5 separate regions of the Homo sapiens genome follow, and all the other regions are linked to region 1. Evidence: fine-mapped expression QTL. A gene starts in region 1. Each other region holds a variant in brackets. All regions are shown on one strand. Distances are from middle to middle. Region 1 holds the start of RASGEF1A (RasGEF domain family member 1A). Region 2 overlaps CSGALNACT2 (chondroitin sulfate N-acetylgalactosaminyltransferase 2). Region 3 overlaps RASGEF1A (RasGEF domain family member 1A). Region 4 overlaps RET (ret proto-oncogene). Region 5 overlaps RASGEF1A (RasGEF domain family member 1A).

The links. PIP is the estimated chance that this variant, and not a neighbour inherited with it, causes the effect.
Region 2: its variant is the best candidate, but not a certain one, in a credible set for the expression of RASGEF1A in whole blood (INTERVAL, PIP 0.54).
Region 3: its variant is the best candidate, but not a certain one, in a credible set for the expression of RASGEF1A in whole blood (INTERVAL, PIP 0.76).
Region 4: its variant is the best candidate, but not a certain one, in a credible set for the expression of RASGEF1A in unexposed skin (GTEx, PIP 0.79).
Region 5: its variant is the best candidate, but not a certain one, in a credible set for the expression of RASGEF1A in monocytes after R848 (Quach 2016, PIP 0.57).

Annotation. Positions count from the first base shown.
Region 1 is chr10:43,264,521-43,269,622 of GRCh38, reverse strand. RASGEF1A (RasGEF domain family member 1A) reads left to right here and starts at 2,558. Exons shown (of 13, transcript NM_145313.4): 1 at 2,558-2,778. RefSeq lists an enhancer at 3,053-3,928.
Region 2 is chr10:43,173,231-43,178,332 of GRCh38, reverse strand. It overlaps CSGALNACT2 (chondroitin sulfate N-acetylgalactosaminyltransferase 2), which reads right to left. Exons shown (of 8, transcript NM_018590.5): 7 at 2,301-2,382. Among named protein-coding and RNA genes, the nearest start is that of CSGALNACT2, 37 kb to the right of the region's middle. The variant AC/C (reference allele first, on the strand shown) is at 2,402.
Region 3 is chr10:43,237,379-43,242,480 of GRCh38, reverse strand. The region is part of intron 1 of RASGEF1A (RasGEF domain family member 1A); the gene reads left to right. Among named protein-coding and RNA genes, the nearest start is that of RASGEF1A, 27 kb to the left of the region's middle. The variant G/T (reference allele first, on the strand shown) is at 2,982.
Region 4 is chr10:43,118,669-43,123,768 of GRCh38, reverse strand. RET (ret proto-oncogene) reads right to left here. Exons shown (of 20, transcript NM_020975.6): 14 at 4,024-4,238; 15 at 3,566-3,688; 16 at 1,753-1,823; 17 at 1-98. Among named protein-coding and RNA genes, the nearest start is that of CSGALNACT2-DT, 17 kb to the left of the region's middle. RefSeq lists enhancers at 1,714-1,763, 2,514-2,633, 2,744-2,803, 2,814-3,073. The variant CTTT/T (reference allele first, on the strand shown) is at 2,835.
Region 5 is chr10:43,222,757-43,227,858 of GRCh38, reverse strand. The region is part of intron 1 of RASGEF1A (RasGEF domain family member 1A); the gene reads left to right. Among named protein-coding and RNA genes, the nearest start is that of RASGEF1A, 42 kb to the left of the region's middle. The variant C/ACC (reference allele first, on the strand shown) is at 2,283.

The DNA of each region.
Region 1 (5,102 bases):
GAGAAAGCTGAACAAAGTCAAAAGTTGTTTCTTTAAAAAAAATTATAAAACTGACAAAACCCTAACAAGACTGATCAAAAAAAGAGAGTGAAAAACACAGAGGTCCCCAATATCAGAATCCAAGTGGGACATAGCTACAGATTCTACAAACATCTGCGGGATAATATAAAAGATGTTATAAACAACAATATGAGGATGTCAGAAAATCTGAAAATTTAGAGAAAATGGGCAAAATCCATAAAAAACACAATTTGCAAAAGTTACATAGGAAGAAGCAAATAATCTACATGGTCCTATATATTAAAGAAAATGAACCTGTCATTAAAAACCTTTCTACAGTGAAAATCCAGGTGCAGAGAGCTATTAATATTCTCACTGAATGGGTGTATTCTTATTGAAAATTCATGGAGCACAACTTTATGATTTTTGTCTATGCATGTTATACTTACAAAAAATTATCCTTGGGAGGCTGAGGCGGGAGGATTGCTTGAGCCCAGGAGTTCGAGGCTACAATGAGCTATGATTGTGCCACTGCACTCTAGCCTGGGGGACAGAATGAGACCCTGTCTCAAAAAAAAAAAAAAGCTATAAAAGTTTACTTAAAATGAGTAAACAAATAAATAATATGGGGAGTGGTAGGTGGGCATACAGATGAAACAGAATTGGCCATGTATTGATAATTGTTGAAGTTGGGCCATTGAGTTTATTGTATATACCTTTTTAGCCGTTACTATTATAAGCGTTTAAAATCTTACATAATAAAATATTGTTTGTAAAAAATAGTAAGATCATATTACTTTGTGCAAAACCCTCCACCTCCCTCTGAGTCAAAGCCACAGAGGGCTGATGGCTGGCCAGGCTCTTCGCGATATGGTCCACCTGGCAGCTCCTGCAGGCTCCTCTCTACCACACTCACTCATCTCCACTTGGCCTCCTTCTAAGGCATCCTCCACCTCAGGGCCTTTGCATGTACTGTTCTCTTTGCTGAAAATGTTCATTCCTCGGATTCAGCATAGCTTGCCTCAGTTAGGTCTTAGCTCAGATATGATCCTTTCAGCCAAGATTTCCCTGATCACCCAAAATAAAATCCCCAACCCAGCAGGGAAGGGTGGTGGTGAGAAACTACAGTTCTAGCTACTCAGGAGGCTGAGGCAGGAGGCTCACTAGAGTCAGGAAGTTCCAGGCTGTAGAGCATAGTGATTGCACCTGTGAATAGCCACTGCACTCCAGCCTGGGCCACACAGTGACACCTCCCCTTAAAAAATAAAAAAGAATCCCCCACCCTACAAGCTCCCCTCCCCCTCCCTTCGCTGGCTCCCTCTCCCTGCTGGGCCTCTCTGTGGGATCTGCAGCATCTGACACATGAACTATTTATGTGTATTTTTATTCACTGCCTACTTCCCACAAGAATGCAAACTCCAACCAGACAGAGACATTCACAGCCGAATCCCAGTGCCCCATCTTACACCTGGCATACAGGTGTTCAAGACACAAGGACTAAGTGAGTAAGCAAGGTCCTCAGCCTCTTCAAGGGGTGCTGTGGGGCTCCTCCCCATTTTTTCACACAGACCCCTCCACCTGGGGACATCGTCGCCCCAGACCTGTTTCTCACTGGCCCTCGTCTGACTGCCTGCAAGAGTCACTCTGGGCCACCCTGGGGTCAGGCCACAGGGTGTCCGTTCAAGAGAAGGTGACCCTTCAGAGCGACAGGAAGTTCCAGTGGACGCCAGAAGACCTGTGTCCTGCTTTAGTGGTTCTGAAATCTTTCAAGGTGGCTTTGGAGCCTTGCTCTGCCACTTATAGGCTCTGAGACCCTGCAGGGTAACCGCACTCCCTGTGCATCAGTTTACTAACCTGTCCAATGGGAACAAATCCACCACCGACCTTACAGGGCGATTAAGATGGTTAAGGGGAGTGACCCAAGGGGCCAGGACTTGCCCACAGAAGGGCTTTCACCGTCTGATTCCACTGACAAAAATTTTGCCAGCTCTGCGGGAGTCCCCAGAGGGCCTTTTAAATGCGGTGGCCGCATCGCCTCCTAGCTTGTCTGCTGCCTGATCCTTTTTTTTTTTTTTTTTTTTTTTTTTTTGAGACGGAGTCTCACTCTGTTACCCAGGCTGGAGTGCAGTGGCGCGATCTCGGCTCACTGCAAGCTCCACCTCCCGAGTTTACACCATTCTCCTCCCTCAGCCTCCCGAGTAGCTGGGACTACAGGCGCCCGCCACCACGCCCGGCTAATTTTTTTTTTTGTATTTTTAGTAGAGATGGGGTTTCACCGTGTTAGCCGGGATGGTCTCGATCTCCTGACCTCGTGATCCGCCCGTCTCGGCCTCCCAAAGTGCTGGGATTACAGGCGTGATGCCTTATCCTTTTTAAATGAAAGCCTGGCCGCCCTCTCCCGGCGCCCGCCCTGTCCCAGTGCCCTCTGCTCGAGCCCCGTCCCGCGCCCTACCTCCCCCTGCACCTTTGCCCCGCACCCTCCTCCCTCCGCGTCCCGCGCCCGCCCGCTCCCCCGCTCCCCGCGCTCTCGCGCCCGCTCCGTGCCCGCTCGGCGCTCGCTCCGCGCTCGCTCGTTCGCTCGCTCGCTCGCGCTCCCCGGCGCCGGCTGCGGAGGGAGCTGCTCTGCCCGCAGCTGGCGCAGCGCGGGGGCGGCCGCGGGTGGGCGGGTGCCGCGGGCCCGGGCGCCGAGCATGAGCCGCCGCCGGCGCCGGCCGCGCGCTGCTCGGGGCCCGACTGCGGCGCGAGGGCGGCGCGGGAGCGACGCTGGCCCGGACCGAGGTAGGCAGCGGCCGCGGACCCTCAGTGCCTCGGGGCCCCCGCCCGCGCCTGGGGCCGTGCCCTCCGGTCGCCGGCGCGGGCAGGGCGCGGCGTGCGCGGGCCCGGGGTCCCTCCCGGCGCGGCCGTCGTGGGGCCGGGGCGCGGGCTCCGGGCGCGGGGCGGGGGACGCGCGCGGGGAGGGCGGCCGGGATCCCGGCGCGCGGAGTTGCTGAGAACTCCGCCCCGGGCTGGACGGCGCCAGGACCCCCTGCACCCTCCGCCCCTTCAGGGCACCTGGCGGGCCGGGCCGGGCCGGGCCGGGCGTGGCAGGAGCGCACGCGGCGGGCGGGCGTGGGCACTGCGGGCAGGTTCGCTGCCCGGGGCCTGGCGTGGGGGTGGGGGCTGGGGAATCGGAGGAGCTCAGGGCTGCGCAGTTGGAAGTTTCCATTTGCTCTTCTGCATTCTGGGCCCCGCCGTGGTATCTCACGCCCTTGCTGTTTGGCGAGGAATTGGGGCTTGAGCTCTGCATTTGGGGGAGAGGTCCAGGGCCATGCCAGGTGTCTCCCTCTCCCTGCTGGGCAAGGGTCATTTGAAGGACCACGCTCTCTTTGCCCCAGGCCTTGCCGGCCCCAGGAACGGGGCAGGTGCAGCTGGTTCTGGTCCGAGGGTCGGTGAGTGAGAGGTGGGGGCGGGAGTCCCCTGCTGTGTGTGGAGGGACGCGCTGGCAGGTTCCTGTGCCCTGCATTTCTGGCTGCCTCTGGGTGCTGGACCTGGTGGATATTTACAGAGAGGCCGCTGCCTGCCTCTTGGGAGCCACCTGGGGGCAGAGACCTGGTGGTGGCCGGGGCTCCCTCCCTCCCTGCTCAGAGCAGTGAGCTTCTCCCTGGTTCACCCTCCCCACCACTGCCACTCTTCTCCCACTGTCCTGCGCAGGAAGGGCCCCGATGGCCGTCGGCCGCAGGATCCTGAAACACAGGAGTCAGGCTGGGTGCAGGGGAGCCTCCCAGAGGCCTTGGTTCCCTCTGTCCCCCCAGGGTTCTCCCGCCCCCTCCGGATGCAGTCTTGCCAGCCCAGCCTGTCCACCTCGGTGCCCTGGACTCTAAGCGGCTCTAGGGGGCCTCCAGCCGAAAGGCTACAGGTCTTGATTCGTGAACCACGGGCAGGCTGCAGGCTTCTGAGACTCAGTTTCCCCATCTGTAGACTGACACGGTTTTGATGACCTCTGAGGACATTTCCACCCTGATGTCCAGTGACACTTTGCTTTGGAACCTCAGGACCCCAGCCCAGGAAGGGGAGATCCGGAGCAGGGGGACATGGAGGACCTTGGCTGGATGGCCAGGGACACGTGGGTGGGTTCTCTGCCCCTCCAGCCAGTGTGTGTCCTTAGGGCTGTGGGTGGTAGTGACCCAGCGAGGCGGGTGCAGCAGGCCCACACTCCCTGCTCCTGAGAAGGGCATGAGCTGTGTGGATCCCCCAGGCTCTCTAGTGAAGTAGAGAAGCTGTGTCCTCCTGCACATGCCCCTGGGTTTGTGAACCAAGCAGGTATCCCAGGTGTGCCTTGGCCTGAAGGCCAGCCAGTGAGTTTGTTTTTCTCTGGGAGGCATCTTCGAGCTGCCAGCCGGATGGCTCCCTTCCACCTGGCAAATCGTGGAAATGGAACAGTTCACACAGAGCAGAGGGGTTTTTTGGTGTAACTTAGCAACTGCAGGCAGGGGAGGAGGAGGAGGAGGGAGAAATGGCATTTGTGCTGGACAGTGGCTGCGGTGGGGAGAGCCACGCACACAGTGGCCCCCAGCGGTGGGAGGGGCCAGCCAGGGAGGAGAGCGAGTGGGCACTGGGACACAGTGTGGCCAGGAGCCCCTGAGCACGCCGGTCCCCACCTGTAGAATGATGCCAGGGGCAGGATGGGACAGCTTTGGTTGGCCTTTGGTTTTTGGCAATAGAACCGTGGGTTTCACAGAAGCCCTATTTGTCAAATAGGTCAAGTGAAGGTGCTGTGCCAAGGCAGGGATGGGGGCAGGGGGTTTGGCCCCCCCACTGTCCTCAGGAGAGGGGCTGGTGGAGGGATGCTCTTCTCTGCATGGCCCACCCCAGGGGAGGGGCGCTGGGCTGCTGGGGGTAGGTGCCAGGGGCATAGCAGATAGCAGATGGGGAGGAGACTCAAGGCATTCTCCCCCACCCCTCCCTGCTGCCCCTTGACGGACCCTCCCTCCCCTTCCCCCTTTTTCTCCTGAGGCCATCTGCTTGGGTCCGGCACTCTGGCTGCTTTTCTGTTGGAGCTTCCAATCTGCCTCCTGTAACTCCCACCCACTCCAGCCTGCCTCCCGGCTCCTCTGCCCTCCCCT
Region 2 (5,102 bases), 91 kb after region 1:
GTATTATAAGCAATCTAGAGATGGTTTAAAGTATATGGGCAGATATGCACAGGTAATATGAAAATATGTATATTTACATAAGGGACTTGATCGACCATGGATTTTGGTTCCACATGGTATCCTGGATCCAATCCCATGCAGGTACTGAGAGATGACTATAATGGCTGAAACTTCCCAAATTTGATGAAAAACATTAATGTACATATTCAAGAAGCCCAAGAAACTCCATAACCCAATTAAAATGGGCAAAGGATCTGAACAGACATTTCACTAAAGATATACAAATGGCCAATAAACACATCAAGAGATGCTCAACAACATTAATCATAAGAAAAATTATAATCAGAGTCACAATCAATACCACATCCACTATCATGGGTGATACTAGAAACAAAAAGATAATAACATGTATTAATGAGGATGTGGGGAAACTGGAACTCCTAAACACTGCTGGTGGGAATGTAAAATGATGCAGCCACTTTGGAAAACGGTGTGGCAATTTCTCAAAAGGTCAAACACAGGATTACCATATGACCCAGCCAGAGTCCTGGGCATATGTCCAAGAGAATTGAAAATCTATGTCCACCCAAAAAGTTAAACACAAATGTTCACAGCAGCAGTATTTATAATAGCCAAAAAGTAGAAACAACTCAAATGCATATAAACTGACAAATGGAGAAACAAAATGTGGTATAACCACACAATAGAACATTTTTTGGCTATAAAAAGGAATGAAGTACCTAACATGTCACAACATGGATGAACTTTGAAAACATTATGTGAGTGAAAGAAGCCAGTCATAAAAGGCCACATATTGTACAATTTGCTTTCTATTAAATTCCCAGAAGAGGCAAATCTATAGGAAGTAGACCAGTAGATGCCTAAGTTTGGGGGGAAAGAGGGTTGGTAGGATGTGAGGAGTGATTGTTAATGGGTATGGGATTTCTTTTTGGGGTGAAATGCTCTAAATTTGATGGTGGTGATAGCTACATGACCTGGTTAACCGTACACTTTAAATTAATAAATTTTATGATATGTAAACTATATCTCAATAAAATTGTCATAAAAAAGAGATAAGGAACTCAAAGCATTCAAGATACTGAAAAAATGTACACAAATCTATTTTTGAGGAATAGTGAAATGCTGCTTGCTTAACTAAGCAAGAAATCAAGGAAAAGAGCATCAGTTTAATTTAACGCCCCTTTTATTGTTATTTCCTGATTTTCCATTATTCAAGTGTTACAATGATAAGGAGACAAGGTGGGGGGATTTCCAAAACAAAAGGCTGGTTATAAAAACGAATGTGATATGGACCTAGAATGTATATAAAATATATTCTATGACTTCTATGCTGTAGAAAGGTAGCTAGCCCTAAATGAATCAGAAGACATGGAATCAGGTTTCAGCCTGCTTTATTAAACTATTCTTTGACACTTTATATTTTGCTGGGTAAGACTGAAGCTAGGGGCTGGGCATGGTGGCTCACGCCTGCAATCCCAGCACTTTGGGAGGCCAAGGTGGGCAGATTGCTTGAACCCAGGAGTTCAAGACCAGCCTAGGCAATATAATGAAGCTCCGCCTCTACAAAACAAACAAAAAAATTAACTGGGTGTGGTGGTGCACGCCTGTGGTCACAGCTACTTGGGGATTGAGGTAGGAGGATCGCTTGAGCCTGGGAGGCAGAGGCTGCAGTGAGCCAAGATTGTGCCACTGCTCTTCAGCCTGGACAACAGAGCATGCAGGATAGTTAGAACAAATTATTCATGGGCCATCTTTAGGCTTAGGGGAATGCATGACTAAGGTGTGATTCCAAGACGCGCTAGAAAGAGCAGGTCTTCTTTCATTTGTATTAAATACTGGGATTTTGTGTAACAGTTCACTAGACAAGTAAAGGAGGTTTCATCTCAAAAAAATGTGAAAGTCCTTGGTCTAGATAACCAAGATTACTCCCAGCTGTAACAACCCATGGGCACAACAGTAAAGTTATAGAGAAAGCTTTTGTAAGACTACTCTAAACACCTGCAACTATGGGTAACAAGTTAAACAGATATTTTTAAAAACAGGTGTTTTGATTTTAAAGGAACAAGTAAATATTATACTTTATTTTTATGACCATTTTTTTCCTATTCAAAACATTAATTATAAACTTATTTTGCCTTTTGTATATCCAGTTTCTCTTTTTAGCTAACCTTAGACACTCATACTTTAGTAGGAAAACACTCAAATCTGAGACCTTTTAGCAAAATACCATTAAGTCTGGAGTAAATAAAGTCCTATCCTTAAATGTAAAGTATACTTACCAATGGTCAGGAAATCTGAACGATACTGACAAGTCATTCCAAAGCCAAAATCTCGCCAAAAGCCAGAATCCTTTTTGTGAACCTTAGTTAAAAAAAAAAAA[AC/C]AGAAAACAATTTAATTCCATAAGAAGCAGAAGTTTTAATCAACGATGAAACAAATTATTTTCTAATGTATACTTTTTTCCTGTCATTTATGTGACTGATTAAGGATCACATGCACTTATGTTATTAAATCCTTACAAAACAAATAAAAATAGAACTCAAAGCCTGTACAAGGTGCAAGCTGAGGTTACTAATTATCATTGTGGTGCCTGACTTCAAGGGGCTTACATTCTAGGACAACAGTTGCATAAACAAATTGTAACACACAGGATCAACCTTACACAGTAGACTTTATCTGGTGCCTACCCAGTATCCATTCCCCCAACCCCCTTCCTGATTGGTACAGTTTTGTTCTGGTAATTACCTGGCCCTGGGCAGCCCATGAATTCAGGGAAGCTGCTGTCACCAGTAGATTCGGAGTGGGCCATGAGTCTCTATACTAGTGAGACAGTCTCACCCCACTTACCATAGTGGCTCACTTACTTACTGGCTCACTAATAGGTATTTAAAAAAAAATCAGGCCAAGTAGGTAAACCAGGGTGGTTGTTGGGAACTTTGGAAAACAAAGCTCCTTCGTTCTTCTAAGAGACTCACTAGAAAGGACATTTGGTCGTAGGGCAGGGTCAGCAAACGATGGCCTCTGGCTAAATCTGGCCTGCTGCCTGCTTTAGTAAATAATTTTAGTGGAACGTAGTTGTGTTGATCTGTTTACAAATTGTCTATGGGTGCTTTCACAGTGCAGTGGCAGAGTTGAGTAGTTGCAGCAGAACTGTATGGCCTATAAAGATTAAAACATTTCTTATCTGGCTCTCTACAGAAAACATTTGTTGACCTCTAGTGCACGATGCAGCTATGAAGCTTGGAACTGCCAAAGTCCTTTTCTACCATGCGAGAAACCAGCTTTAATATGAGGCTGTCACCACTTAAGTCTAAGTAGAGAAAGAAATATAAAACCAGGGCATTGATGACACTGAGTCCTTGGAATCACTTCTGCTTACAAGTTGAAGCCTGATAAACCTTTTATTTTATTCATACTTTCAACAAGTGTTTAATCTTTTGGATATGGTTCTAGTAACTGAGGCTTAGCAATAAACAGAGGTGACAAAGTCCCTGCCATCAAAGCGCCTTTGTTTGGGTGGGAAAATAGTAAATAAATAAATATACATTTTAGGTGGTGATACATGCTACAAAGAAAAGAGGCAACAGCTATAACTAGGGATGGGAAGCTGCTAGTCTAGTGTGTGCTACTGTGGTATGTACCAAAAGCAAAAGAGTGTATGGATGTGGAATGTGGAAAAGATTTAGGTCAGAGACTTCACAGAAGTCAGCAAGTGATTGAATGGGCAGGAGTGGGGAGTGAAGGAGAAGGATCAACCAAGATGACAGCAGGCTTCCGTCCTGAACAGTGGGTATGTAATGGTGCTATCCCTAAGATGAAGCCCAGGGGAAGGGCCAGCCCAGAGAGGAACAACATGGAGTTGGTTCTGGCCATAATGAATCTGAGTGATCTGTAAGGCACCTACACAGAAATTCCTGCAGATAGCAGGAATATCAAGGTCTGCAGAGGTGACAAATTTTGAGAAGAGTGGGCACAGTCTGAAATTGCTGCTGTACAGAATAGGAGAATCAACAGGAAAACACATAATGAACCAGGCAGCCCTGAGGGCTCAGCTCAGATTGGAGCTGATGGATGAGTTTGGCATTTTTCTTTTCAATTTTTTTTTTTTTGAGCTGAGGGGGAGAACTTCTTCCCCTTCTAGAATGTAAAGCTCCCTGAGGGGAGGACTTGTGGATTCTGTTCACTGCTATATTCCTAGCACCTAGAACAATGCCAGGCACATGACAAGCTTTCAATAAATACGTGTTGAATAAATAAATATATAGAGAGACATAATTTTAGTGGCAAAATGAAGACTAGACTCTATTATTATTATTATTTTGAGACAGAGTCTCACTGTGTTGCCCAGACTGGACGGCAGTGGCACAATCTTGGCTCACTGCAACCTCCAGCTCCCAGGTTCAAGCGATTTCCGTGCCTCAGTCCGCTGAACAGCTGGGATTACAGGTGTGCGCCACCACACCTGGCTAATTTTGGTATTTATAGTAGAGACAGGGTTTCACCATGTTGGCCAGGCTGGTATCGAACTCTTGACCTCTGGTGATCCACCCACCTCGGCATCCCAAAGTGCTCGGATTACACGTGTGAGCCACCACTCCTGTCTCTAATATTCTTATCTCTTTGTTAAAATATAACCCTGATACAAAGTATTAAAAAGCAAAACACCCACTTTGACATCTCTACACCATGCCAATTCTGATTATATAAGTACTATAACTTTGTAACTTAGTTTCTCTAAAAATTCTTCAAATATTATCAGACTTGGAAAAAGGAATCATTGGTTTGATTTTTAAAGCAACACATTTTCACAAAGGAAAGTAGAAGGAAACTCAAATTGTCCATAATCCTTATTGTTAATATTTTCTTGCACTGTTTTATCTGGCCTCCTAAGCATGTGGGAGATGCAGTTATCCACACATAACCTATATACCCAAGCCTTGGCCTCTCACAGAATGCCAGATCCCTGTAGCCAACTAGCAATTTGGCACCTCCCCTTGGATGTCTGATAAACAACACATGGCTACTATGGCTCCAGTTGAATCCCAATCTCTGCTCTCCCATTCCTTTCCTTTGCTAATTTCCT
Region 3 (5,102 bases), 27 kb after region 1:
TAACTGACCTACTGTCTAGAGTTTTTGTTCATTATTGAAAGTGGGGCTATTGAATTCCCCAACTATTTTTGTTGAATTGTCTTATTTCTTCCTTCAATTCTATCAGTTTTTGCTTCTTGAATTTTGGGACTCTGTTGTTAGGTATATATTTGTTTGTAATTGTTATATCTTGTTGATTAGCCCTTTAATCATTATAAAATATCCTTCTTTGTCTCTAGTAACAATTTTTGTCCTAAAGTCTATTTTCTCTAATATTAATATAGCCATTCTGGCTCTCTTTTGATTACTTTTTGCTTGGAATGTCTTTTTTCATATTTTCACTTTCTTATTTATTTATTTTTTTGAGATGGAGTCTCGTTCTGTCGTCTAGGCTGGAGTGCAGTGGCGCAGTCTTGGCTCACTGCAAGCTCCACCTCCTGGGTTCACGCCATTCTCCTGCCTCAGCCTCCTGAGTAGCTGGGACTACAGGTGCCCACCACCATGCCTGGCTAATTTTTTTGTATTTTTAGTAGAGATGGGGTTTCACTGTGTTAGCCAGCATGGTCTCAATCTCCTGACCTCGTGATCCACCCACCTTAGCCTCCCAAAGTGCTGGGATTACAGGCGTGAGCCTCTGCATCCGGCCATATTTTCACTTTCAACTTATTTGTGTTCTTCTCTCTAAAGTGGGTCTATTTTAGAAAGCCATGTAGTTGGATCATGTTTTTTTTTTTAACTCTGATAATCTCTGACTCTTAACTGGAGTGTTTAATTCATTTACATTTAATGTAAATACTGATAAGGTAGGATTTGCTATTTGTTTTTTATGTCTTATGCCATTTTTGTTCCTTTATTCCTTCATTATTTTCTTCTTTTGTGTTAAATAGATATTTAGATATTATCTAGTGTACCATTTTAATTTCTGTCTTTTCCTTTATTGTATATTTTTGAGTTATTTTCTTACCTGTTGCCTGTAGGGTTATAATTAATATCTTAACAAATAACTATGTATATGTTATATGTACATGTCAATGTTCAGATTAATACAAACTCAATTGCAACAGTATTCAAAAACTTTGCTCCTCTGTAGTTCTGTTGCCTCTCCTCTCCTTTGTGCTGTTACTGCCATAAAATTTACATTTTTATACCTTGTGTGCTCATCAATCTATACTTATAATTATTGTTTCATGCAGTTGTCTTTTAATTCAGGCACATTCAGGGTAGTATGGTCATAGACCAGTTGTCTTTTAATTCAAATAGGAGAAAAATAGAGTTAAGTGCATAAAATGTGTTTATACTATCTTTTATATTTACTAATATATAGCAATAAATATAAAACCAGTAAAGTTACCTTTAATGGTCCTCTTTATTTTTTCACATGATTTCAAGTTGCTGCTTATTGTCCTACTATTTCAGCCTGAAGGACTCTCTTTAGTAGTTCTTATAAGGCAGGTCTTCTTCTGACGAGTTCTCTATTTTATTTGTCAGGTAATTTCCCTTTCATATTTGAATGACAATTTTGCTGCATAAAGAATTCATGGTTGACACCTCTTTTCTTTCAGTATTTTGAACGTGTCAGCTCAACTGCTTCCTGCCCTTCATGGTTCCTGATAAGAAATCTACCTGGAGTTTGTTGAACTTTTAGGATATGGAGATGAATATTTTCATCTAACTTAGAAAATTTTAGCCATTATTGCTTCTAATATTTTTTTTCTGCCTTATTTCTCACTCTCCTCTTTTTCTGAGACTCTTCTTATACATATGATAGTGTCCATTATGGTGTCTGTGGCTCTATTTATTTGTTCCTTTCTTTTTTCTTTCTGTGCCTCAGACTGGATAATCTCAATGGACGTTTTTTCAAGTCACTGATTCTTTCTTCTCTCTGTTCAAACCTGTTGTTGAGCCCCTCTTGCTATGTTTCATTTCATTTACTTAGTTTTCAACACCAGAATTTCTGCTTGGTTCTTTTTTATAATTTGTATTCCTTTATTGATATTCTCTGTTTGATATATTGCTTCCATACTTTCCTTTAGTTCTTTAAACATCAATTCCTTCAGTCTTTAAAAAATATACTTAAAGTAGCTGATTGAAAGTTTTTGTTTAGTAAGTCAATTCTGGAAATCAGATTCTCCCCACTCTTTGGGGTTTGTTGTTGCTGCTGTTTATTGTAGTAATGGTTGTTTGTTTTGTGACATTTCTGGATTACTTCTGCAAAGTCTGTATTCTTTTGTGTGTGGCACTGAAATCTCTGCTCAGTTATCTTAGCGGTCAAATAATGATTGGAAAGAAATTTTCATAAGTGCCTGGAGTCAATAAAGTTCTCAGTCTTCGCTAAGGGGCTCTGTGTCTTTGGGTATGCTTTCAGCTCTCAGCTAAGCAGCTGATAACTCTGCCTTAGTCTTCTCTTCCTGCTTGCACAGAGACTCAAAGTCAGCCAGAAGTGAGTGCTTAGGGTTTCCCAAGTACTTTTCTGAGCATGTGCACAGCCCTGAGCATGCACTTGACCTTCTAGATTCTCAGGAATGCACTGCAGTTTTTCAAAACCCCTATGATCATGTCATTACTGAAACTTTCCTTTTAAGCTTTCTGGTTAGTCTATTGCTTGCTTCACTGTTATCTACTGCTTCAGGCATTTGTGAAATTAAATACCAGTAATTGTTTTTGACAATGAACCTTGGGGAATATGATTTTTGTACTTGAGACCTCTGAGTCAGGTCAAATACAGACATCCTTGTAAGTGGGGTCTCCATGGGAACTACTGGACAGGTCAAATAATGACAGTTTTCTGAGAATGAAGCTTTGAAAGAGTTCCATTGCTGTTTTCCCTCCAGGGGCTGCTACGCCAGTGGTTTTCATGATGAATGTGGGGTCCTACTTTTCAAGGCACTTGGGATAGAGAGTCAGGGATGGGACTAGGGCAAGTTCAAGTGCTATAAAATTTGCAATTCTTACTGAGATTCAGTTATGTTTTTTGAATAAATCCTCCTAAGATTTCTGCAAGC[G/T]TTTAGTTAATTTTGGAAGTTCTAAAAATGTGGATTCTGACCTTTTTGTTTTTTGCTGGTTTTCTTGTTGCGTTTATGGAAGAGAGGGTTTTTGGAGGTCCTTACTCCACCATTTTCACTACCTGGCTATACTCTATTGAAAGCACTTCTGGGATGTCTCTTTAAACTTACAATGATCATAACCTTTGACCCAGCACATCAAGTATTAGGAGTTCATCTTTTATATGTGGTCACACATTTGAATAAAAACTTTTCATCAATAATGCCCATTGCAGGAGTGTTTTTCGTTGCCAAAGACTGTAAAGCACCTTGGTGTCTTTTGCTAGAGGACCTCTTACATGTGTGGCAGCCCACCTACCCAGTGGAATACCCTGCAGCTGCCACAGAACGTATGGAGTTGCCAGGAGCTGAGGGGCTCTCTCCAGGGAGCTGCAGGTGTCTGGGGCAAGTAAAGAAACTACAGGGCATCATTCCAGGCACCACTGATTAGAATGAATAATACCCCTTCTTCGAGAGCCTGTGATTCTGTGAATGACTAAGAAAGAAACTTCTGGAACATTTGTGTCTGCTCTAGGAACAGACACATGCACAGAAGCACGTGCAGACTTGTGTATTCGTGGGTTGCCTCATTTCCATTTGATATCAGGTCCCTTTCCACCAGCCTAGAGTGTCATCCTCTCTGGCTCATGGGGATGGCAGCTGTGGGCCCTTCCCATGGAAGAGGGGGCAGGACTCCCTGAGATGCATTGCTGCCCACATGCCCTACCAGCCTGACCCTGATATCTTTCAGGGTCCCTCAGTATCCCCACTTGCCCGAATGGCAGTCAGGGGCCCTGCCCATCACAGACAGCCTCTCCCCTGCCCTGCAACATGTTATAGGGACCTGCCAAAAGAGGACCTGGGGAAACCCACGGGACCCTCACAGCACCCTGGTGTCTTTGCAGAGTTGCAGGAGTGTATGTGGACATGGGGCTGGGGCAGTGAACAAGGAGGCTGGGGAACCCAGGCTTTCCCCCACTAAACTTAAATGAAATATAAGTAAACTGTCAAAAACGGTAGTAGTAGAGCTATCTAAAGTACTGCAGTTCGGTGAAGTACACTGAGCAGCTCAAGGGTAGGAAACCAGACAATCTGCGATGGCTAACCCTGCTGAAGGCAGGTCTGACTCTGCGATGGCTAACCCTCCTGAAGACAGGTCTCAATCTGCGATACAACACCCCCGAAGGCAGGTCTCAATCTGCGGCGGCTAACCCTCCTGTAGGCACACATAAACTAGCCACGGCTAACTCCCCTGAAGACCCCTTTAAGTCGACATGGCTAACCCTCCTGAGGGGCAGGTGTTACTCTGTGATGGCAAACCCTCCTGAAGGCAGGTCTCAATCTGCAGCACCCCCCCTCCCTCCGCCCCCCAAAGGCGGGTCTCAATCTATGATGGCTAATCCTCCTGAAGGCGGGTCTCAGGCACACCTGCGTCAGGCCTGGCCGCCTTGGCCTGTGTGGCCCACTCCCCTGATGGGCAGGTGGGCTGTGCTGAGCCCAGATCCCCGCCCACAGGTACAATGGCTGGGTCTCTGTTTGCCTGTGCCTGAGTGTCTGCAGGACAGGGCTCTATTCCCTGTGGGAGAGGAGACATCACATGGCGGTCCTGGGACATTCAGGCAGAGAAGCTCTGTGGTCTATGTGCTGGGGCCATGCTGGGATGGTCCCTGGGACTTCTATGGGGCTGGGTGTCGTGGGATCCCTGAGGAGTAGCAGCTGAGTTTGGGGAGAGCGGAGCCAGCTAGGCATCCTGGCATGAGTGCGTTCAGGCCTGGGCTTGGTTGGAACCCACGCCGTGCGTTAGCCTGGTGCCTCTGATGAGCACAGCAGGGACTGGAGGGAGGAGGCAGAATTGGCTGCAAAATAGCAGATGCAGCTGCTCTTTCTAGAAATGTAGGTAAGAAGAAAAGAGAGGTTGGGAGGCAGCTCAGGAGGAGCCGGGGTCAGGAGGACTGTGTCTGTGGTCTGGAGAGGGCAGAGGCTGAGGGGAAATGGAGGTGGGGGGGAGGGGAGGGGAGGAGGGGGAGAGTGGGAGTTAGGGGCACAACAGTGGGGTCAGGGATCAGCTCCGGGGCCTGGGCC
Region 4 (5,100 bases), 150 kb after region 1:
CGGTCTTCAGAAGGTTGAAGAGCCGCTCAGGAGGAATCCCAGGATAGGGGTTTCCCCCTAGGGTCACGATCTCCCACAGCAGGACACCAAAAGACCATCTGCAGAGAGTGAAAGGACCAGTGAGTGGCTCCACCTGGCCCTCACAGAGCCCTCCGGGGGGCCCAGATATCCACCCCCACCACCAAGCACCTGCTGACCCTGTCGGCTTCAAGCACAGATGCTCACAGATGTCAGCCTGGGTCTGGCTGCTCAGATGGATGTAGCATGAAGGTGGGGAAGGGCTGCCTGCCTGCCTGGCCCCTACTCCATGAAGCTGAAGTCCTTGCCCAAGCCACTCCCATCAGAGCAGCCACACGCACAAGGGACACATGAGGCTTAAGATGAATTCATGATTAATGAATTAATGATACATTAATTAATATCATGAATTAATCTTAATAATTCTTAAGATTCTCACACTTAAAGCGGTGAGAATGCAGGCCACCAGACTCAGAGTGCCTTGTATAGTTCTTTTGCCATTTCTATGTGCTTGGAAAATTTCATAAAATCTTAGAAGGAAAAAAAGCTATAGAAAAACATTTTAACTGTGAAGGAAAACTCGCTTTGCAATGGGAACAAAATCATATCACAAAACAGCATCGCATGAGCCCATTTAGGGCAATAAAAAGCATACATGTGCACACCACGGAGCACACCAGAGGGCAGCCAGAGGTCACTGGGCGGTGTGGTCCAATGACATTCAGTCTCTTCTTTATGCTTTTCTCTGCCTTTTCCAACTAGCCTACAGTCAGCTTATATAATCGGAAAGCTGTTGTCCAATTGCTTATTCACAGCCCACAGTATTTAAGATGCACATGTTGGCCAGGCGTGGTGGCTCTCGCCTGTAATCCCAGCACTTTGGGAGGCTGAGGTGGGTGGATCATTTGAGGTCAGGATTCAAGACCAGTGTGACCAACATGGTGAAACCCTGTCCCTACCAAAAAATACAAAAAAATGAGCCAGGCGAAGTAGCACGTGCCTGTAATCCCAGCTACTCAGGAGGCTGAGGCACAGGAATCGCTTGAACCCAGGAGGTGGAGGTTGCAGTGAGCCAGGATTGCGCCACTGCACTCCAACCTGGGTGACAGAGTGAGACCCTATCCCCTCCCCCCACAAAAAAAGAGAGGCACATCACACCTCTGCTGACTGTAGAACACTTTAGAGGCAAGAATCCTGTGTTTTAAAAGTGATCAGCTCTTGTCATTGGACCTGGAAGAATGAGATTTTGGCTTCCACCTTTGAGCAGTTTGGGGCACACCAATCTATAAACTCACACAAGGCCATCTTCAGGTGGAGTCCCCAAGCTCCACTTGTGGGTGGGGGCAAGTCACTGGGTGCTCTGCCTGAGCCCAAAGCCCTACTCAGGACCACAGGAGGGTAACTGCTGGGCTGGGCCTGAGTCACCAAGGGACCCAGAGGGAGGCATGGGACTAGCAAGGGTGGGGGAGGCTGGGTTACTGGCCACCTGCTCGGCTCTCATGCTCTACCGGAGCTTTCAGAACTGCAGCCCGGCCTGGCCCAGCCATTTGCCTCACGAACACATCATGAAGGCCCCTCAGTGAGGGGGTCATTGCAGAGGGCTAGCACTGCAGACAGGTGCTCAGGGCCAGTGCAATTCCCTGGCCAAGCTGCACAGACGGGCGTCGTGGCCCCACTACATGTATAAGGGTGTTTCTGTAACCTCCACCCCAAGAGAGCAACACCCACACTTACACATCACTTTGCGTGGTGTAGATATGATCAAAAAGGGATTCAATTGCCATCCATTTAACTGGAATCCGACCCTAAAGAGAAGATGGAATAAAGACATTGAAGTTACTCTAACTCTCTAGGAAGGAGGGGTAAAGGAGAAGGCCAGGCCCTATCCCTGAGCTTTCAGTAACCAGAGGAGTGCTGTAGACACTCCTGGGCACAGAACTGGCCACACACATCTTTGAAGGGGCTGGAGCTCCAGCCTGAACCTCCTGTGGATTGCTGAGATGCTGGCGGGAGTCAGCTGCCCACCCACAGGCACACAGGGCCAGCTTGTCACATGCCACAGGCCTGCTGGTAGTGCAGAGCAGTGCTTCCCTATGCATGGGCCTGGAACTCCCCCTGCAAGATCTCCCCTGGGGTTCTGAGGGCCAATGTGTTTGGGAAACCAACATCTAGCATTTCCATGTTGGGCACTTTGCCAGCAGCTACCACACTGAAGGAGCCTTGAGGGAAGGGATTTGTCTGTGTGCCTTGGGGGAGGCTGTTTTTTCTCTCTTATTGTATTGCAGGGTGCTTTTAGCATCTCTGAATGAGTGCCCCCAGCCCCCTACATCCCTCATCAGTGCTGGGGTCTGACCTAACAAATCCTTTCCAGGGTGACTTGAGAAACAGCTTCTCCACAGACAAGCCTGAAGGTGCAAGTCCATTTTTAAAATGTGTGCCTTGGGTTGGAACACAATCTTACTGTCACTTCTTTTACTTAAACACATGAGGGATTTATGTCCTTAGTGCAGTGTGGCTGTCTTGGCAGCAGTGTGTGACAGTGTAGCCTGCACGTCTTGTATAAGAATGCCTTCAGCTTCTCTCCCTGGAGGACCAGTGCATCAACAGGAAGGCTCTGTCCACACCCTCCACAGGGCAGGGGCCAGCCCCTACCACTTCCCCCCACAGCAGTTCTGAGATCTGCTGTCACAAGGGAAACCCCAGAAGAAACGGAACAGCTCACAACCCCTGGCAACACAAATGGCTTCTCCAGACCCCTCAGAGCAAAGCTGAATCATAGGAAGTCGCCTTTTGTGGTTTTTTTTTTTCTTCTTCTT[CTTT/T]TTTGAGCAGGGTCTGCTCTGAACGTCTGGGCGGCATGGCCTTTGAGCAGCCCCTTGAACTTGCCCTGCCTGGGCTGCCACTGGGAGGCTGCAGGAGAGGGGCTGACATGGGCAGAAAAACTAAGAGGGCCAAGGCAGTTGTCCCGGGACTAGGACCATGGTAGGGAACCAGGTGTCCCCAAGGGTGCCCACTGCCTGTTTCATAGACTTGGACAAAGCTGGGCTGCGTTTCTGGATCCTGTCCAGGGGGTTCCTATGCCTCTAAACTCACCCAGCCCAGTGTCCAAGGCCCCTGTGCGGGAGAAGCCTCACTTGTAAAGCAGTTCATTCCTTTTTGCAAAGAATGACGATCCTGCTAATTTCATCCCACCCTTCTTTGAGAAAAGAGCTAAGGTCATATCAGAACGGTGACCTTTATTCTGCAGAAGAGGACTGTTAGTTCCGCAGCATGAGGTGGCCTCTGAAAAGTGCGGCAAGGGCCTCGGGTCAGTATGCTGCCAGGGAGGGGTGCCCTGGAGGCCCTGGAGGAGAAGGACATGGCAGAGGCTGAGCGGAGTTCTAATTGGGTCCTTGGGGACCCAGGGTCAGAAAGATTTGGGGTGAGGGCTATAAAAAGCTTAGAGCTCCACTAATCTTCGGTATCTTTCCTAGGCTTCCCAAGGGCACTGCCTGCCCCATGGTGCACCTGGGATCCCTGGGAGCCCCGCCTCATCCCCGGGACTGGGCACCTGGCTCCTCTTCACGTAGGAATCCTCTTCATAAACATCTCGGGACAAGCCGAAATCCGAAATCTTCATCTTCCGCCCCTCAGCTACCAGGATGTTTCTGGCTGCCAAGTCCCGATGAACGAGCTGTGAGGAAAAATAGCACGAGTCGTCAGGCCATGGCCAGGCAGCAGCGGTCACTGGCTCAGCCTGGTGTGACCAGCAGAGGGGTGGTGTGTGGCCCGGGTAGCGGCCTGGTGAGACCTGGGCCGGGGGTGTGGCATGGCAGGGGCGTGGTGGAGTCAGGGTGTGACATGGCAGGGGCGTGGTGAGCCATAGCATGGCATGCCATGGCAGGGGCATGGTGGGCTAGAGTGTGGCATGGTGGGGGAGTGGCAGGCCAGGGTGTGGGTGGCAGGGGCGTGGTGGGTCAGGGTGTGGCCTGGCCGGGGCTGGCTGGGTGCAGAGCCATATGCACGCACCTTCATCTCGGCCAGATACTGCATCCCCTGTGAGATCTGCCAGGCAAATGAGATGAGGTCGCCCATGGTGAGGGCCCGCTCATCCGGGTGGTCCAGGGAGCTGGAGTTGCGGCTGCCTCCACTGCCCAGGTAGCCAGGCCCCACTTTGCGGCTCTCGCGGAGGAAGCCCCGCAGGGAGCCGTATTTGGCGTACTCCACGATGAGGAGGAGCGGGCCTGGGGGCGGAGAGAGGGGGCCCTGGGCGTGCGGGTCAGGCAGCTTGGGTCTTCCAGGAGCCAGGGGTGGGAGGCCGCAGGGTCCCCAGGCCCGGCCACCCAATGAGTAAGGGGGTGGACACAGCCCTGCCTCAGGCAGCACTGCTGCAGCTCTGTGGAGAGCGCAGACCTTGAAGCCTCAGCTTTCTCTTGAACCACTTGCTCTCTGCCTCCTGCTGCTCGTGTGGGTGCCTCCTTCTCGAGGTGCCTGAGGCAGGCGACACTGCCCTGGGAGGCACCCCTCCCTGATGCTAGGACGCCAAGCCTTTTTGCCTCCTGGGTCCTGCCCCAGTGCAGGCTGGGGATGCTGATGGAGGCAGAGGCCTGCGCAGATGCAAGGGTTCCTGCCTGGCGCTGGGCTCTGCACACAGCCTGCTCCCTGTTCCCACCTGTCCTGTCCCAGGCCCAGCCTCCAACTCTACTGGTGCCGACCACAGTGCCTGCTGCGCACTCCCGGTGTTTGGGTTCCCTATCCCTCTCGCACACACCCACACACGCATGCTGGGAAGCCCCTGAGCAGCATGGTGGTTTGGAAAACCAACAAACCAGGCTGGTCTCCTGGGTCTTTATCTGAGAAATGGTGACAATGTTCCTGCCATGCAGGGCGGGGCTGGGGTCACCTGAGGTCACAGCACACCTGGTGCCCTGTGGTACCCAGGGTACCCTAGTACCCAGGATGCACTGTCCATTCCTAGAGCTCCCTGCCCCACGGGCCCAGCCCCGAACTGGGTGAGGACACATGGCAGTGTCACACCAGAGACCTCTGAGTAGCCCTGTGGGCCCAGGGAGTGCCGCTAGCGCGGGGCCCCTCTGATGGAAAGTG
Region 5 (5,102 bases), 42 kb after region 1:
TTTTCATTGAGATGGGGAAGGTCAGGCTGGCGCAGGAAGGAGGGTGTTGCCCTTAGAGGTGGGCAAGATGGCAGGCACAGCAGGTGGGAGCAGGGACAGTTCAACACTTCCCACCCCAGAGGTGTTGCCTGGCAGTGGTGTGGGCAGTCTAGAGTCCAGGGAGAGGTCTAGGCTGCATGTGCTCATGCAGAGCCTGGCTTGCTCCACCCTGCAGGCTCCTTGCTGCCCTGCCTCCTGGCCACCCTACCCACACCTGCACCTGCTGGCTCAGGACAGTACAGCCCTGGGCCCCAGCCTTCCCAGGCCCAAAGCCCATCTTGCTGGGCCTGCTAGCTTGAGCCACCTTCTTTCAGCTTCCCCAGGAGAGGTGGGATGAGGACTCTAGCCCTCAGCGGGGCACAGGCCAGGGGAAGGAGAGCAGAGCCATGGCCTCTCATGTTAGCCCACCACCTCTGTGCATTGGGGGTCCAGGCCTGGCCAGGATGCAGGGGGCACTGGGGACAGCACAACCCAGGGTCACATACTCACAGACACATGGGCTGCAGCAGTGCCATCTGTCGGGGGGGCAGGCAGTCAGGAAGGGCTGCCTGGGGGAGAGAGTCTCACACTGGCATTGGTGGGATGCATGAGGATTGACTTAGTGCAGGGGAAGCTGCCTGCATCTCCCACACCTTTGGGCTCTTGGACCTCGCCCTCCAGGGAACTGCTGGTGAGTGACCAGAGGAAGGAGACCAAACTGTCATGTCAACCTCCCTTTTCCCCCTTAACCCACTGGAAAACCCCTGGTTATCCTTGGAAGCTGATCTCAGAATCACCTCCTTCATGAAGCCCTCCCTGACTACTCCCTACAGAGTTAGTTCCCCACCTCCGTGCCTCCACGACACCCGGCACAGACCCCCAATCCTGAAGAGATCATGCCATGCCATGGAGTTGTGTCTGTCTTCCCACAGACACTAAGGTCCATGGGCTGTTCCGTTCTGAGTGTGTGGCATAGGCCACAAAGGCCTCAAGGGATGCTGACTTGACTGAACAAGTTCTGGAAGGAAGGAGGAAGGAAGAAAGGAAGGAACAAAGATGAGGGCGGGAAGTGGCCTGTACAGGCTCTCTACTTCTTGTTTTACATCTGGGGAAATTGAGGTCCAGAGGGGCTGTGTCTTGCCTGAGGTCAGCCAGGAGGTCAGGGGTCAGAGCTGGTTCCTGGGTCATGAGGGCTCCACTGTGTGGGTTCTGGGCTGCCTGGGTCCCTGTGGGTTCCAGGACAATGGGAGTTCAGAGGCAGATGGGACACGAGGCGTGGGGGCTCCTGAGGGAACCCGGGGACAGTCAGGTGGGAGCCCATGGATGGCGTGGATCTCGGAGGAGGATGGCAGCCAAGATCCCCTCAGCTTCTCTGTTTCTTTTTTTCTTTTCTTTTCTTTTTTTGAGACAGAGTTTTGCTCCTGTTGCCCAGACTGGAGTGCAATGGCATGATCTCACTGCAACCTCCACCTCTGGGGTTCAAGCAATTCTCCTGCCTCAGCCTCCTGAGTAGCTGGGATTACAGGCATGTGCCACCATGCCTGGCTAATTTTGTATTTTTAGTAGAGACGGGGTTTCTCTATGTTGGTCAGGCTGGTTTCGAACTCCTGACCTCAGATGATCTGCCCGCTTTGGCTTCCCAAAGTGCTGGGATTACAGGCATTAGCCACTGAACCTGGCCCTCTGTTTCTTCTTCTGGCCCCTGCTGCTGGCTGGGCCCTGGCCCTGCGGCCCCTGGCACCACTGGCCAAGTGGAGTTTTGTTGGCAAAGCTGGTGTCTTGTGGTCTCAGCCTCGGGGAATAACCCAGCCCCCACCCCTGTCACCGCCCACACCCGCCTTCCGGGCTGGGACCCAGCCCCTGGCATTTCCCAAATGTCACTGTGACTGCCGCCAGCCACCCCTGCCCAGCCTTGGGCCGGTAAGTATGCGTCAGAGCGCCGCCCTCCTCTCTCTCCCCCTCCCCGTGGGTGAGGAGGCTCAGCCTTCAACTCTGGCCCCAACCTGAGTATGACTTCTCTGGGGACCTCCCTGGGGCCACATACAACAGATGTCCTTAAAACAGGGACTGGCATGTTCCTAGAGTGCCCAGCCTGAGGGGGCAGTGGTGTGGTGTTTTGGGTGGGTGACCAGGAAAAGTGGCTTCAGGGTAGCTGAGCTGGTTGGCAGAGCAGGCCCACTGTGGACATCGTGTTCCTGGGGGATGGTAGTGGAGCTTAGAGAGCTGAGAGATCCGTGGACACACACACACACACACACACACAC[C/ACC]CATACACAGACACCCACACACAGAGACACACATAGGTGCACACAGACACAGAGACACACAGACACACAGAGACATGCAGAGACACAGACACAGAGACACGCAGGCACACAGACACAGAGACACACAAACACAGACACATACAGAGACACAGACACAGAGACACATGCAGGCACACACACAGACACAGACACATGCAGAGACACAGACGTAGAGAGACACACAGACACATGCAGAGACACAGACACAGAGACACAGACACACAGACACACACAAAGACACAGACACACAGAAACACACAGACACAGAGACCCCCCCCCCACAGACCCCCACACACAGACATGCACACACACACAGACACATGCAGGCACATGCACACACACAGACACAGAGACACACACAGACACAGAGACACAAAGACACACACACAGACACATACAGAGACACAGACACACATAGACACATGCAGGCACACACACGCAGAAACAGAGACACACTAACACAGAGAAACACAGACACACAGACATATGCAGAGACACACAGACACATACAGAGACACACAGACACACCTCCCCTACTGCCACTGGTGTGAGCATCTCTGTAACAGCTCCACACAGACTTATGGGCAGACACATATGCCCAGGGGAGGTAGATAAGTAAGCTATTGATTTTTTAAAAGTTTATGTTAGGTAATTGATTATTGATACCTTACTAGTTTGAACAGATTTTTAGTTTGGCTTCCTGGAAAATCCAAGAAATTAATTATATTACTTACACATAAGGAACAGCCAACTTCTTTATTTCTAATGTATCTTTAGTTTTCTTATCTTATTATGTTTTCTAAAAGGTGCAAAGTAACATTAAATAATAGCAGTTGTCTTTGGCTTGATCTTCATTTTAATGAGGAGGCTTTTCATGTTTTACTAAGTCTGAAACTGGCCCATATTTCCAATAGGTATTCGTCATCAAGGACAGTGTGCTGGAATCCTACATTAATTGCCAAGAGTGCACACCAGGAATGGATATTCAGTTTCATCAAAGGCTTTCCTATATCTAGCAAAATCATCAAATGCCTTTCCTCCTTGGACCTATTAATGTGTTGACTTATTAACTCTTCTGAGCTAAATCATCCTCTTGTTCCTGGAATAAAGCCCACTGGGTCAGGCTCTATTGTGCTTAAAAATGCTGCTGAGTTCATTTTACTGATGTGTTGCTATGTTGCTGAGGGTATTTTTCACTATTTTCAGAGGTAAGAATTTATGCATACTTTTCTACTAGGAGACATATTTGTCACATTTATAAATCATGCTATTTTAGCTTTATAAAATGAATAGGAAGGCTTTTCAATATGAATTGTGTAGTTGAAATAGTTTATATATCATATAAAATTATCTTATCCTCAAAGGCTTGAAATAATTCATTTTAGAAACTATTTCAGCCAGGGCTTTCTTTTATTTTTTCCAGAGGCTTAGTTGGCTCTCAACTTAATTTGTACTATGGTTATTGGTCTTTTTGGGTTCTAAACAGTTTTACTCTATTTTTGGTTACTTATATTTTCTAGATAATATAAGTAACCATTAAAAGTTCTTGCAGATCATTTACCACAGATTTAGGTAGTTGTTTGTTTTAAACTTTCTTCTACATATCTGGAGTTAGATTCCCTTTTTTCATGCCCAATGTATTTTTCATGTCCTTCCTTTCTTCCTTCTTCTCTCCCTCCCTTTCTTTTTTAAAATAAATTTTTATAATTTTTTTAAAGAAATAGAGACAGGTTCTCACTAGAGCCCCCCAAAGTGCTGGGATTACAGGCATGATCCAGGGTGCCTGGCCCTCCCTCCCTTTCTTCTTTCCTTTTGTTGATTAGAATTGCAAGAGGGTTATCCTTGAAATCTGTGTTTTCAAAGAATCAGCTCTTGAAGTTTATAAGGAGTTCTACTCTATTCTTTGATTAAGTCATCTAATTTGCTTTTTAGTAGTTTCTTCTTCCAGTTTGTTTCACTGTTTTGTTGAGAAGCTCTTTTTTAAGCTTTTTGAATCAAGTGCTTAGTGTTTACTTCAATACATTATTGAAGTCTATGAACTTTTCTGTGAGTACAGCTTTGGCCATATCAAATTCGATACAGAGTTTTCCTATAAAGGTTATTTTTCTGACATCTGTAATTGGAATTTGAATCTTTAACACAGGTGTGATTTAGGGATTTTTTTTATGAAGTGGGTATTTTGTTTATCAGTTATATATTAATATCCAACTATAGTACATTGTGCTTATGTCATTCTCTCACCTGCACACTTCTATTTGGGGACTTTACTGGGTTTCATTGGTGGTATAACATACGACCATGTGGCAGAGACTCTGGACAGTAGAATGTGCCTTTCTGTTTCTAGACACAGTTTTTCACATATCTTGGTCCCCTGTCCAGAGAGCATGCACTGCAATATTTTCATCCCTTGGGCATCTACCACTTGCTGGGCAATTTCTGGTTGTGAATCTAGCATGAAGAGGTGCTCACTGTGTTTCCTGGGCATAGCTTTGTGTTCTTGGGAGTTTACCTCTAATAGGGTTATAAAAAAAAAACCAATAAAGTGTTTTTCTTACTCTCCACTCTCAGCCATTTAGCACAACATTCTAATACCAGATTCTCTAACATTAAGACAGCAGCTGGGTGCCCTGTAATTCAATTTGGACAATATTGGAGGCGAAGTCAGATCTCACAGGTTGAGAGCTTGGTCCCACAAGGCTGTCCCCCTCCCTCGACTTCAGATGCCATTTGCAAGTCTCAGGTTGTGGCCTGTGCTTCTGACCCACCCAGCAAATCACCACT